Linked DNA regions of Homo sapiens: regions 2 and 3 are each linked to region 1. The links come from fine-mapping of genetic effects on gene expression. A gene starts in region 1. Each other region holds a variant in brackets. All regions are shown on one strand. Distances are between the middles of the regions.

Region 1 (4,130 bases):
GACAGACCCTGATCAGATCCACGTGCTGGTGGAAAGGACAATTTAAAAAATGAAACTATCAAACGACAGACGGTTACAGAAAGAGGATCTTCTACCCTGATTACTTTGTTGTTGTGGGGGTGGCATGGGTGCTTGGGGACAAAAGGCATGCTGTGAAGTACCTCTCCCCACCTGGGCCTTTGGTACCCAGAATTAACAAATGGCATGGGTTCTTATTTATTGTTTTATAAGATCACTAAAATGTAGTCTTGGGACAACAGGAAAAAAATAATAATAAAGCTCACAGAAGTGTCCTGGGCTTCTCCGCAGCCGGTCATTGTTCATTTAGTAAACAAGTGAGCCATACAAATCTCTAGGAAGCCAGGTTTGTTCAGTTTATGCGTCCTCCCAGAACTAACTGTTCTTTTGGATAAGCACGGCCCGGGCATTCCACAGACCCACAAACATCAGGCAGTGGGCAATCTGGGGTCCCGCCTAAATATCACTGCCCCCTTACTTTAAGAAATCCGCCTACAAGCAGAAAGCAGAGGTGGAGGAGGGGGATTGGAGAGCGCTGCCTCTTCCCAAGCTTCCCACTCTGAGGGATTTGGCCGAGTCCCGAGGGCACTGAGCAAGGAACCAGGAATATTGTCCTCAGGGCTCCACTGGACATTCCTGGAGTCTGTTTCCTGGGCAGGACGGCCAGGTGAGAGGCAGCCTATTACACTGCATGACCACTGCAATGAGGAACAGTAGAATGTTCCCCAGCGCCTTAAAGTACAGCCGCTGTCCATCCACGGATGTCAAAACGCTCTGCAAACCACCCATTAATTTTTATGGTGGCTTGAGAAGCAGATTGAGAATCATTACCTTCATTTTTACAAGGCAAGGAACCAAAACCACAGAGGGCGGTGAGGATCCAGGCCTCTCCCATCATTTCATCTGGGCCACGGATCTCAAGGAAAGCCCCCAGCCCACTGGGAAGGGGACTCGTGGCCAGCAGAGATTCTGCCCGGGTAGGGAGCAAGGAAAAAACCCAAACTTTGGAGCTCAGAGACGGTCACAAGGGTGAGAAGGGGCGGCTGCATTCAGGGATTCTCTGGTTTAGGCAAGAATGGCTCCAGTTCTAACTTAATGTTCAAATCTGCCAGGCTGTGACAAGGCTGGTAAAAAATGTGGGATTGGGGATGGTTTCCTGTTTGCTGTTTATATTTCTCTTTATCTCTAGCTTTCTGTCCTGAGCATACATTGTTTCTGTAATCAGAACAAAAGTTATGCGAACTTTATTATTATCACGGATAAATTCTATAGTTCCAATCTGCCTACTAACTTGGAAAGAATAAGCAGGAATACAATCTCGCACAGTGTTCTTTTTCAGATCTCATCGATCCATCAGGCTCCACGACCCTCTGCTCGCTGAGTCCGGCGGCTCTCCCGCGGCTCCTCCCGCGCGGCATCTCTGGGCGCCCGACACCCGGTCAGGGCCAGCTGGGCCTGTCCCCAACCCCCGTCTACACCGCAGGCCCCGGGCTAGGAGCCGCGGGACCCAGGGTTGGGGTCCCAACTGACACCCGCCCGTGCCGCGGAGCGGGCTTCTCGGTAAACATCGCTCAGAGAACAACGCGCCTCTATCCCAGCCGGTCCCCGCCCGCGGGCCGCCGGCGCTGTCACCTCGCGGCTGCTCGGTCACCCGATCGCCAAGCCAGAAACCGGAGTTTTCAATTTCATCCTCACAGGAGGGATCTCCGAAGAAGTTGAAATATGCATTGTCACCAACAAGTTTAACCGGAGACCGCGCGTCCTTCCCTCCTCCCCAGCGCCGCTCGAGGGGGGCGCCCCGACCCCTCCACGCCCTCCCGTGGCCCCCACGGCCCCCGTGAGCCGAGCGCGCCCCCCGATTTGCGCCCGAGGACGCGTCCGGTTGCCCAGGGAGGCCACCCCGCAGGGCCGCCCGCCGGGAAGTGGCCAGAGCCGGGGTTGGGGGGCGGCCCGAGCGCACGCGGAGGGCTGCGGCTCGGCGCCCGGAACCCCGGGCCGGGTCCCTGCCCACCAGCACCAGGGAGACCCGAGCGCCCGGGGGAGCGGCGAGGGGCGCGCGAGGCTTCCCCGAAGCCGCCCCACGCCCAGGCACCCGCGCAGCCCCGAACTCAGGCGGCGGTGGCACGATCGGCGCCCGCGGCACGATCTGCGCCCGCAAGGGAGTGCAAAGCCCCCGAGCACGACCCCGCGCCCCCGCCGGCCCCCAGGGCCCTGCCGCCCGAGGCGCTCCCCGCCGCCGCCTGCCTACCTGGCTCGCATGGCGTCCCCGCCGGCTCCTGAGGCTCCGCTCGTCGGCCAGCGGCTCGGCCCAGCCGGGGGCGCGCGCGGCTCCGCGGGACTCACGGCGGCGGCGGCGGCGGTAGTGGCGAGGGGCCCGGACCGCCGAGAGTGCCGGGCGCGCTGGGCCCCCGCCTCGGCGGGCGGAGGGTGGTCCCGCGCCTGGGCGGGGGCGGGGGCGGGGGCGGGGGCGGGGGCGCGGGGGGCGGGGCCAGGACCGGAGCTGAGGCCGCGGAGGGGGTGGTCCCGCGCCGGGGCGGGGCTTCGGGAGAGGGGCGGGGCGGGGCGCGGCCGTCTGAGGCTGGCGAGCGTGGGGCGGGCTGGGGGTGGTGCCGCGGCTCCGGGTCCAGGCGGGTATCCAGTCTGGGCGCCTCCTCTTCTTCCTCCGCCCGGAGCCGGCCAGGGTAGCGGGGCCTTGGCCGCCCGGCATCCTCGGGTCTGGGTCCCCGGTACCGAGCAGGTCTGGGTGCTGGCCCGCGCTCCTGTGCCCCCCCGCACCCCCATCTCCCACCCCTTCTCCGGGAACCCCTAGCGAGGACCCCTGGGGCGGTGCGGTCCCCCCGCGAGCGGGCGTGGGCGAGGGTCGCGCCGCGTTCGGAGACGCTTTACTACACCTTGGCTGAGGACAGTGGAGGGAAGGCAGGCGCGAGGCTGCGGGGGCCGGAGCGAAAGTTACAAACTAACAACAGGGAAGGCAGTCCGGCTGAAAATCATAAAAGGAGGAGAGTTTCCTGCGAAGCGGAATGCAGATTGAAGGGCTCTGGTCGGAATCGTTTACACTTTGTCTGACCTGGGCGCCTCTGGGCCCCCGGCGCGTAAAACAGGCCTGGCACGTAGTAGGCGCTCCATCAATGCCCAGTGAGTGAACGCACCACTTAACTATGTGGCCAGCAACGTCTATGGACCGACACATCTAATCCTAAAAAAAAAAAAAAATCCCAATTTTGGCTAGTCCATTTCACACGAGTAAACTAGAGCTCGGAGGGTTGGTTCGCCACAGAGGAGAAGGGTAGAACCAGAATCTGAACCGAGGCCGACTCCAGAGGCTGGGGTCTAACCACTGCGCCACTGCCTGGGGCCCTCGGGACTGCGCCCACCCCCACCCCGGGAACCCGGAGCCCAGGAGAAAGCGCGGGTCTTTGCCGGGGAAGAAGCCAACATTTGTTGCTCCTGGTCCTGAGCGAGACACACACAGTCAGTCCTCACCATTAACCCCGAGGCAGATATTGTTATTGTCCCCGTTTTTATAGGTGGCTTGAGACGTGCAGCACTATGTTATGATCGCATGGGGCGTGCCAGAGTCTGAATTCAAACCGGGTATGTTCAGACTCCCGAGCCCCTGCGGCTGCCCCTAAGGCCTGCCGCTCCTGCCGTCTGGGAGACCTTCCTTTCCCTAAGGAATCTGGTTTTCTGCCACTCCATTTGAAGTCTGTGTTGAAGTTTCAGGAGACACAGGTGGACAGAGGCACCGACCTAGGGCTCGGGAGAAGGGTGGACATTGCTGTTCCGATTTTGGTGTCATCTGTGTGTAGATCATGGAATTCCTGAAAATGGATACGAGTATCCCTAAAATACATGCCGCAGATTTTGAAAGGAGGCAGTGAGGCGAAGGGGCAGGTGGAGGAAGCAGAGAAGCCTCCGAGCAGAGGAGAGTTTCTGGGTGGCTAGGAGGTCTGATTGGTGTAGGGATGTGTCTGGAGTGTGCTTGAATCTCTGGCAAGTTATCTCGCCTCTCTGTGACTCAGTTTCCTAAATGAGTGTAAAAATGAAAGGCAGCATGTAAAGTGCTCAGCAGACTGCCTGGCACACAGTAGCTTTCAGTAAGTTTTAGCTAC
Region 2 (4,130 bases), 110 kb before region 1:
TTCTGATATTCTTGTGCCTGGCATAGTGACATCAACCTTTGGTATATCTCTGTATAAACCTAATATTCTGTATAAACCTAATATTTATGGTTTATTCTGTATAAACCTAATATTTGAAAAATGATAGCTATCTCCCAGGTCCTGGGAAAAAATCCGTAAATCTCCAGGGTCCGTGTGAATTATTTTTAAGTAGGTCGAGTGCCCTGAGTCCCTCAACACACATCCCCTTTCCTGTCTTTAATTTCTCAGCTCATCTATCCATGGAAAATGTGATAATGAGGAATATGTAAAGGTGTTGTACAAAGCTCCTGGAAGAACTGGAATCTGACTTTCTAAAGATATTTTTAATGCATAATAATATACTTATGAATTCACTGGCTGTGCAAAGAATCCACGCTGTCCAGCACTCCCATAAACAGGCACAGAATTGCGTTTGTACCTGTCAGTGTTACAGGTTGTTATGCTGATCTGTCGGTGTGAATTTTGCTGTAAATTCCTCATTCTGTGTATGTTGGTTCTAACCAGGCTCGGGATAAAAAATGTAAGTGACTCAGTTCTCTGGATCTTTTCTCTCCTAGACAAAAAGGATGGCTCTGAGCCTCCTGGAGTTGCCAGGCAACCTCCCTATCCCCCCTCTGCCTGCCTTGGGCTGGCTCAGGTGTCAGGGGACTGTTCAGAGAGAACTTTCAACCCCCAGAAAGCTCACCTGAGGCTACAGATGTCCACCAAGCGTACCCACACTTGCTATTCTCTCCTACGTGGGATCGTCTACACCCTGGGTGTGAACTGATTTTGCACTTCGAGTGCAGAAAAATATGTGGGTGTGTGAAAAATAAAGCAAGCACTTGTTATTCCAAAGTGTGAGCTTCAGCTGAGTTAAACATACGTAACATTATAGCGGGAAGACCAACAAACTAAAAACGAGTAGAGATGAAACTTTCTAGAACACGGTCTGGATTCACCCACAAAACATGTATTTGTTAGATTAAGAAAGAAGGAGTCGGCTGGGGGTGGTGGCTCACGCCTGTAATCCCAGCACTTTGGGAGGTCGAGGCGGGGAGATCACAAGGTCAGGAGTTCGAGACCAGCCTGGCCAACCTAGTAAAACCCCGTCTCTACTAAAAGTACAAAAAATTAGCCAGGCGTGGTGGTGGGCACCTGTAATCCCAGCTACTCCGGAGGCTGAGGCAGAAGAATCGCTTGGACCCAGGAGGCAGAAGTTGCAGTGAGCCGAGATTGTGCCACTGCACTCCAGCCCAGGCGACAGTGCGAGAATCCATCTCAATAAAAAAAAGAAAGGAGCACCACAAGGTACTCACAAAGCTATTCAGGCACTGGGACCTGGCCTCCATGCCCCTGAGGAAATTTCTCTGAAGATTTCATTCATCCAAGAATGTATTGAGTGTGAGGTTGAATTTATTGAGTGTGAGTCCAGCGCTGTGACATCCTCCTTGTCCAGTTCACAGTCTGTGGGGTACACCAGGCAAAGACTCAGCTGTGATACAGAGAGATTCAAGTTCTATTTGTGGTGAGGTCAGAGAGCTATGGGAAAACAAAGGAAGGACCTTTCGCAGAGGGAGCATCTGAGAAGACTCACCTAGGAGCGTGATTTGCAGAGCTGAATCCTGAAGGAGTAAACAGAGCAGGAAGTCAAGGTGTTCATCTGAAGGCAACAAAATTGCCAAGTGTTGATTCTTCACCAAAGGGGCTTATTAAAGGGGACCTGGGCGATTCACAGTAGGGCTGGGAGAGCTGAGCCCCACACTCAGTGCTAAGCTTCCAGGAACCCTGTCCAGAACTGGCCTGGTGACAAAAGTGTGGCTGCAGTGGGCGTGCCTGGCACTAGAGCAAACTGCCATGGCTGTGTGTCCCCCACAGACCCTCGGCCGGGTCAGGAGCTCACCCCCGTGACCACTGCTGCCCTGACGCTCCCGCCGGCTCTCTTCCCTCCTTCTGCATGAATCGGAGCCTCAGAGTCCAAGCTCCACGTGGTGGACTCTGGTCATACGCTTATATTTAGCTGCTAGGGAAGCTGTGAGTTTATGTTTTAAGGGTCCCAAATATAGCGAGAG[A/C]GTTTCCAAGGTGCTGAGCACACAGACGATATGACAAAGGCCACCCTCCCAGTGAGGGCAGAAATAGCCACAAGGGCAGACAGCCATGGAAATGCTGCAGGCAGGCGTCCCGTTTCTCCCTCCCTGTGTTCAACAACACAAGTCCGGAACAATGTGTGATGTATTATCGGCCAGCCTTTCACCTTACCAAGCGAGGCATTAAAACACCAAAACAACTCCTGCCACTACAATCCCCTGTCACCTTCAGTCACCAGGATATAGGACATTTTAACACGAGAAAGGAGTGAAGGGCTTAATCTCAGGATCAGAGACAGTTATTTGATGTGCATCAATGTGGCCTCATGAAAATCCTCTGTGCGCTGTCTTTTCTTCTCTCATTTTTCAGGTACCAGTGAAAGCTTCATCGGGACCCACAATGACCTCCAAGCTGGCATTTGGGAGCCTCCATTCATCGGCTGAAACCAGGGGACTGCTGATGGCAGAGGCTAAGCAGGAGAGGGGTATGAATCCTTTTTTTTTTTTTTTTTTTGAGACAGAGTCTTGTTCTGTTGCCTAGGCTGGAGTGCAGTGGCACAGTCTCGACTCCCTGCAGCCTCTGCCTCCTGGGTTCAAGCGATCCTCCCACTTCAGCCTCCCTAGTAGCTGGGATTACAGGAGTGTGCTATCACACCCATCTAACTTTTTGTGCTTTTAGTAGAGATGAGGTTTCACCATGTTGGCTAGGTTGGTCTTGAATTCCTGACCTCAAGTGATCCACCCACCTCAGCCTCCCAAAGTGCTGGGATCATAGGTGTGAGCCACTGCACCTGGCCTGAATCCAATTTTTAACTTATTTTGTATTTTATTTTATTTTAAGACGGAGTCTTGCTCTTGTCGCCCAGGCTGGAGTGCAGTGGCATGATCTCTGCTCACTGCAACCTCCGCCTCTCAAGTTCAAGTGATTCTCCTGCCTCAGCCTCCCAAGTAGCTGGGATTATAGGCACACACCACCACACCCAGCTAATTTTATATTTTTAGTGGAGACAGGGTTTCACCATATTAGTTAGACTACTCTCAAACTCCTGACCTTGTGTGCCCCGCTCACCTTGGCCTCCCAAAGTGCTTGGGATTACAGGTGTGAGCCACCGTGCCTGGCCTGAATCCATTTTAGAAGGACCCTTCTGGGGGCCATGGAGGATCAGCTGATGGGATAAGGCTGGAATTGCAGTTACAGGGAGAGGTGACAGTGCACAGAAGTACAGCAGTAGCTGTGGCGAGGGAAGAAAAGCGATGGAAGGCAGTTGAATCAGACGCCTAATGACCAACTCAATGGGTGGATGCATGAGGGGCTGCTGACCAGGTTTCTACGTATTTTCACCTTTTCTTCTCACTGGCCGTCTCTCAAAGGCCTTTAACCTCAGGTCCATGATCTTCCAGCTACACCTTACATCCTCCCATTCAGAGCCGAGTCCTAGATCTGCTTCCCCTCCTGCTCCCCCATCTGTGTCTTACTCAGCTTCTCCCCACACCACAGCCTCCACCCCTCCTCTCCCCACGTACAGCAAAGCCGTTCAACACAGCTTAGGCCACATTCTCTCAGGACACCAGTGCCTCTTGGCCCAACCCGCTCCTGTCCAGCCAAACGGCAGACTGAGTTGACCCTCCCTCCTCCATCTCTGTCTGCCTTCCCATTCCTGGGACTCTTCGGGCCCAGCCAGGCACTGCCTGAAGGTCCCACGGCCTCTGCCTCCCTGTCTGCCATTCCAGGCTGCTCGCCACTGGCCCGTCTTCTCATCTCTCTTAGTCCATTTGCACTGCTCTAACGAATGCCCAGCGCTGAGTGGTGTCAAGACAACAGAAATGTATTTCTTAGTTTGGAGGCTGGGAGGCCAAGATCACAGCTTGGGCAGGTTCGTGGGCTGGTGAGGGCTGCTCTCTGCTTCCAAGACGGAGCCTTGCTACCATCAAAGGGGAGCAATGCTGTGTCCTCACGGGCAGGGCAGAGGGGCAAGGGTGCCAAACGCTACTTGAAACCTGTTTTTTTGTTTGTTTGTTTTTTGAGACGGAGCTTCGCTCTTG
Region 3 (4,130 bases), 100 kb before region 1:
AAGCTATGTGATTGGCAACGAGCTGCAGTAGGCAGTCCCTTCAGGCCTCTCCCTCGATGGAGGAGGGCGGCGCATGATGGGTGTAGCCTAGCTGGCGGGCCCTAAATCTGTCTGAGCAGCCGCCCCTTCCTCCCTCTTCAGCTCCGCGGTGACAGCAGGGCACGCAGGGCAGAAGAGGGCTTGCACTCCAGAGCAGCAGGAGGGGAGGGGACCCATTCAAATCACGAAGTCGTCCTGGTCCGCAGGGCTGAAGGCGGCTGCTCTCAGAACGTCCAGGGAGTTCACCAAGATCAGAGTCCCAGTGAGGTGCTTCCAGCGCTTGGTGATGGGGTTTTTCATCTTGTCCAGGCCCAGGTGCAGCTCCTGGATGACATCCCGGTAGCTGTCCCCGATCTGATGGCTCCAGGTGAGTAAGAAGTCATACGCAGGCTTCCACATGGCCTGGGAGGTGGAGTTGTAAAAAACAAAAGGAGGGAGAGAGGAAGAAAGATTAGGAGACAGAACGAGATTTGTTCCTATTACTTGGTGCAGCTTCAGTAGTCACTATTTGGGACACTCTTTCACGAGTGAGACAAGCCCACAGAAGAAACAGTGGAACCATCTCGGGGCCAGGGTCAGCACATTCCAGAGGGAAAAGCAGGGCTTTGTGCAAGAGTAGGTGCGCAACAAATGAATAAACAGAAAGGACTTCTCTTTCCTTACAATCTTTATGGCACTTTCTCTCTGTGCCATTTGTTTGGAAATTCATCCCATTCATAAAAGACAGCTTTGTCCTTGGGACTTCCTGCTTCCTGGATCTTGCAAGCCTGAACCGTCTTCCAGGAAGCTTACTAGGGTGCCCTCCACAAACATGCGAGAACACAAAGGACCTCTGAGCAAGAGCCCGGCCACACCGGCTTTGGCCCAAGTTATGTAACATACCAGGTATCACTCCAGTCCAGAGCGGCTCACAAAGTCCTCTGTGTATGTGTTATTGCATTATTCAACCCTACGGATGGTAATTTAAGATCAAAATGAACAAGGGACAGGCAGTTCTGTTTGTCCTTCCCATGTCGTGTGGAACAGCCTTGACATCCTAAAGCCAGGGCTCACGACAACCAATCCGGAGGATGGCTCCCACTCAGTGAGGCACACCCAGTGCTGGGCACATGCGTGCACATTTCCACCTGTTGCACCCTCACAGAAATGCCGCGAGGCAAGACTTTTTATGGCTGCACTGCATGGGTCCACGGAACCCAGGGACAGAGGGGCTCGGTGAGCTCGAAGCTCAGCCGCTGCTCACCTCGCTGTCCACAACCCCGTTCCTGTCCCGGTGGGGAGACTCGTAGGCGTCCATCTGCTGCTTGGAGACCTTGGCCAGCTTCTCAGCCAGCTCCCGCCAGCGCTGGGCCACCTCTACAGCCGTGGTCAGGAGCACAAAGTCCTGGATGAGTCTGACCACCAGGCCCTGGCAGTCCATCTTCAGTAGGGCCTGCAGAGGAAGAGGCACACAGCGTGAGACAGTGTAGGGAGTGGGGCAGGCTCTGCTCCCCGCAGAATTCCAGCAGACGGCGCAGGAATGGCCATGGGCTCTCTATTCTCCATGTTCCCTGGCCTACTACCAAATGTCCCCTGAAATCGATCACTGCCAGGATTCACGGGAGAAAAGAGATGATGTGCAGAGCGTGCCAGGTTCACCAGTGTCTCCCTCCAAAGCCCACATCCACCCAGAACCTCAGAACGTGACCTTACTTGAAAATGGGGTCTTTGCAGATAGAATTAAGATGAGGTCCCTCTGGATTAGAGGAAGTCACCAAGGACTGGCGTCTTCATAAGAAGAGAAAGCAGACAGAGAGGCAGAGAGAAGAAGGCCGTGTGAAGACGGAGGCAGAGACGGGACAGATGCGGCAACAAGCCAAGGAAAAGAAGGAGGGTTGAGCCAGTGGGGCTTAGGAGAGGCAGGCCTGCAACCCCTTCTCCCCCACTGCTTCCAGACGGAGGCCACCCTGGGACCCCTGACTGAGACCTGTGGCCTCCTGAATGGTGACAGGACAGGTGTCTGTTGTTTGATGTCCCTTGGTTTGTGGTCATTTGTCTTGGCAGCCCCAGGAAGCTAACAGACAGGGTGAATATGGATTAGAGTTGTCACCACTCCCACTCTCTGGGGACACCAGAGAGAAACGAATGCATTTCACCAAATAGACACCATAGCCTGAGGCCGAGACGGATGGAGGGCGAGCTGGACCTGCTGAGTGTGCGGTGCTGACATTGGCCAGTTAGAGAGCACCGCGGGTAGAAGGCTGGGGGACTCAGGCAGGGACCACCCAGGGAGAAGAAGACAGAGAACAGAAGAGGCCCTGGTCAGAGACAGGGTGTACCACCAAGAACCACGGTGACCAGGAGATGCACAGACCTCCCCCAGGACTGTGCAACATGAGAAAACGGTTTCCACAATTGGTGGGACTGCTCCCAC[G/A]TCAAAGCTGCAAGAACTTTCTACTGTGTCTTTAGGACAGGGATTACTAACCACAGAGGAAGTCAGAGGGGAGGTAATAGGACAGACAGCCCTGCTGGGACAGTGAAGTCCCAGCTGAGGCTGGAACAACCACGTGGCCGCCTTGGGACTCAATTCCCTCCTAAAAACGGGGGCTGGATGGGACAGGCATTGAACATATGGCTAATATATCTGGGGGACCCCAGGCTGGGGTCAAACTCACACTTCTGGTTTAAAGAAACAAATCAAATTGGCTAGCACAAGACAGCAGGCCTGCTAGTCCTGTACACTGTGCCAAGTCACATGACTGCCACTGGGTGTCATGCAAGCGACTCTGGCGCCATCCTAATTATAAATGAGGCCACACATGGTTAGCGTGTGGCTCTGAGCCAGTCAGGATGACGTCACCAGGAAGGCAGGAGAGCCGCATGCTGGGTCTGATTCTTGTCTGAGTCTCCTCTGCCATAGAAGGCACAGCTCACCCCCACCCTTAAAGCTTTCTCTCATCCAACAATGGGAAAGGCTTGGCTTCCAGGGCACAGTGGCCTGAGGCAGCCCAGAGACGGTTTCTGAGGCTCCCGTGAGCCCCTGGACAGGCGAGTTGCTAAGAGAAGAGGAAAGTCACCAGTCCTGGCGTTCTTTCTCTCTACGCTCTGTTTCAGCACCTGAGGTTGTCATTTTAGGACTCCAAAGTGTGCTAAAAAACAAACAACCCCCCACCCCCGCCAACCACACCGCTGGTACCGGCGCTCTTTGGCCAACTATTTTGTGCCGATAGCAGGGTCGTCTTGCTAGTGCTCATGCGGTCGGCTGGGCTGCTTACTTCAAAGCGAGCCCAGCTGTTTTAGACTGAGCATTCTAATGTACACTTTATGTTTACCTGGGGGGAGTCTAACAATACAAAAAGGTGACCTTTTTGGCGACTTGTGGCATGCATTAGCCAGAGTAGGTGACTCACGATCCTTCTAGGTGGGCCCCCAGCATCTCAATCCATGGAATTTAAAAAGAACCAGGAGCGACAGATCATTCTGATGCCTCCCTAGATATGAGAGGCTGACAGCTGGCTACCAACGAGGCTGGCCAGAAGGGGGTTTGAGGACCTGGTGGCCGTTTGTTTTTGTAGAAGCTACTAGAAACCCAGGGCTAGGCCAGGAGCGGTGGCTCACGCCTGTAATCCCAGCACTTTGGGAGGCTGAGGCAGGTGGATCACGAGGTCAGGAGATCGAGACCATCCTGGCTAACACAGTGAAACCCTGTCTCTACTAAAAGTACAAAAAAAATTAGCCGGGTGTGGTGGCGGGCACCTGTAGTCCCAGCTACTCAGGAGGCTGAGGCAGGAGAATGGCGTGAACCCGGGAGGCGGAGCTTGTAGTGAGCTGAGATCGCGCCACTGCACTCCAGCCTAGGGGACAGAGCGAGACTCCGTCTCAAAAAAAAGAAAAGAAAAAAAAAGAAACCCAGGGCTTGCTGTGAGCCAGACACTCAGCTCCTCCGCTCCCCAGAGCCCCCCATGAAGCAGAGGCTGAGTTCAACCCACTTTACAGAAGAAGCTGAGAGAGGGGAAGTGGGTTTCACACCGAGAAATGCCAGAGCCAGAGCTGCCTCTGGGCACCCAACCCCAGGTCCTCCCTGCTGTGTGGGCCGCAAGGCATCTGTTCTA

Direction of the effects. Positions count from the first base shown, and alleles are read on the strand shown. Sizes are in standard deviations (SD) of each study's normalised expression. Not every link is listed here.
In carriers of allele C in region 2, the expression in atrial appendage of the gene that starts at base 2,420 in region 1 tends to be higher than with A alone (small effect, 0.15 SD a copy in GTEx).

The links.
Region 2: its variant is fine-mapped to the expression of SH3BP4 in atrial appendage (GTEx, PIP above 0.99).
Region 3: its variant is fine-mapped to the expression of SH3BP4 in whole blood (TOPMed, PIP above 0.99).

Annotation. Positions count from the first base shown.
Region 1 is chr2:234,950,307-234,954,436 of GRCh38, reverse strand. It overlaps SH3BP4 (SH3 domain binding protein 4), which reads right to left and starts at 2,420. Exons shown (of 6, transcript NM_014521.3): 1 at 2,267-2,420. LOC105373938 (a long non-coding RNA gene) reads right to left here. Exons shown (of 7, transcript XR_007088132.1): 6 at 3,086-3,839; 7 at 2,638-2,998. RefSeq lists an enhancer at 1,318-1,967.
Region 2 is chr2:235,061,627-235,065,756 of GRCh38, reverse strand. No RefSeq gene overlaps it. Among named protein-coding and RNA genes, the nearest start is that of SH3BP4, 110 kb to the right of the region's middle. RefSeq lists an enhancer at 3,278-3,778. The variant A/C (reference allele first, on the strand shown) is at 2,073.
Region 3 is chr2:235,049,903-235,054,032 of GRCh38, reverse strand. It overlaps SH3BP4 (SH3 domain binding protein 4), which reads right to left. Exons shown (of 6, transcript NM_014521.3): 5 at 1,283-1,471; 6 at 1-441. The coding sequence ends at 217. Among named protein-coding and RNA genes, the nearest start is that of SH3BP4, 100 kb to the right of the region's middle. RefSeq lists an enhancer at 797-1,758. The variant G/A (reference allele first, on the strand shown) is at 2,453.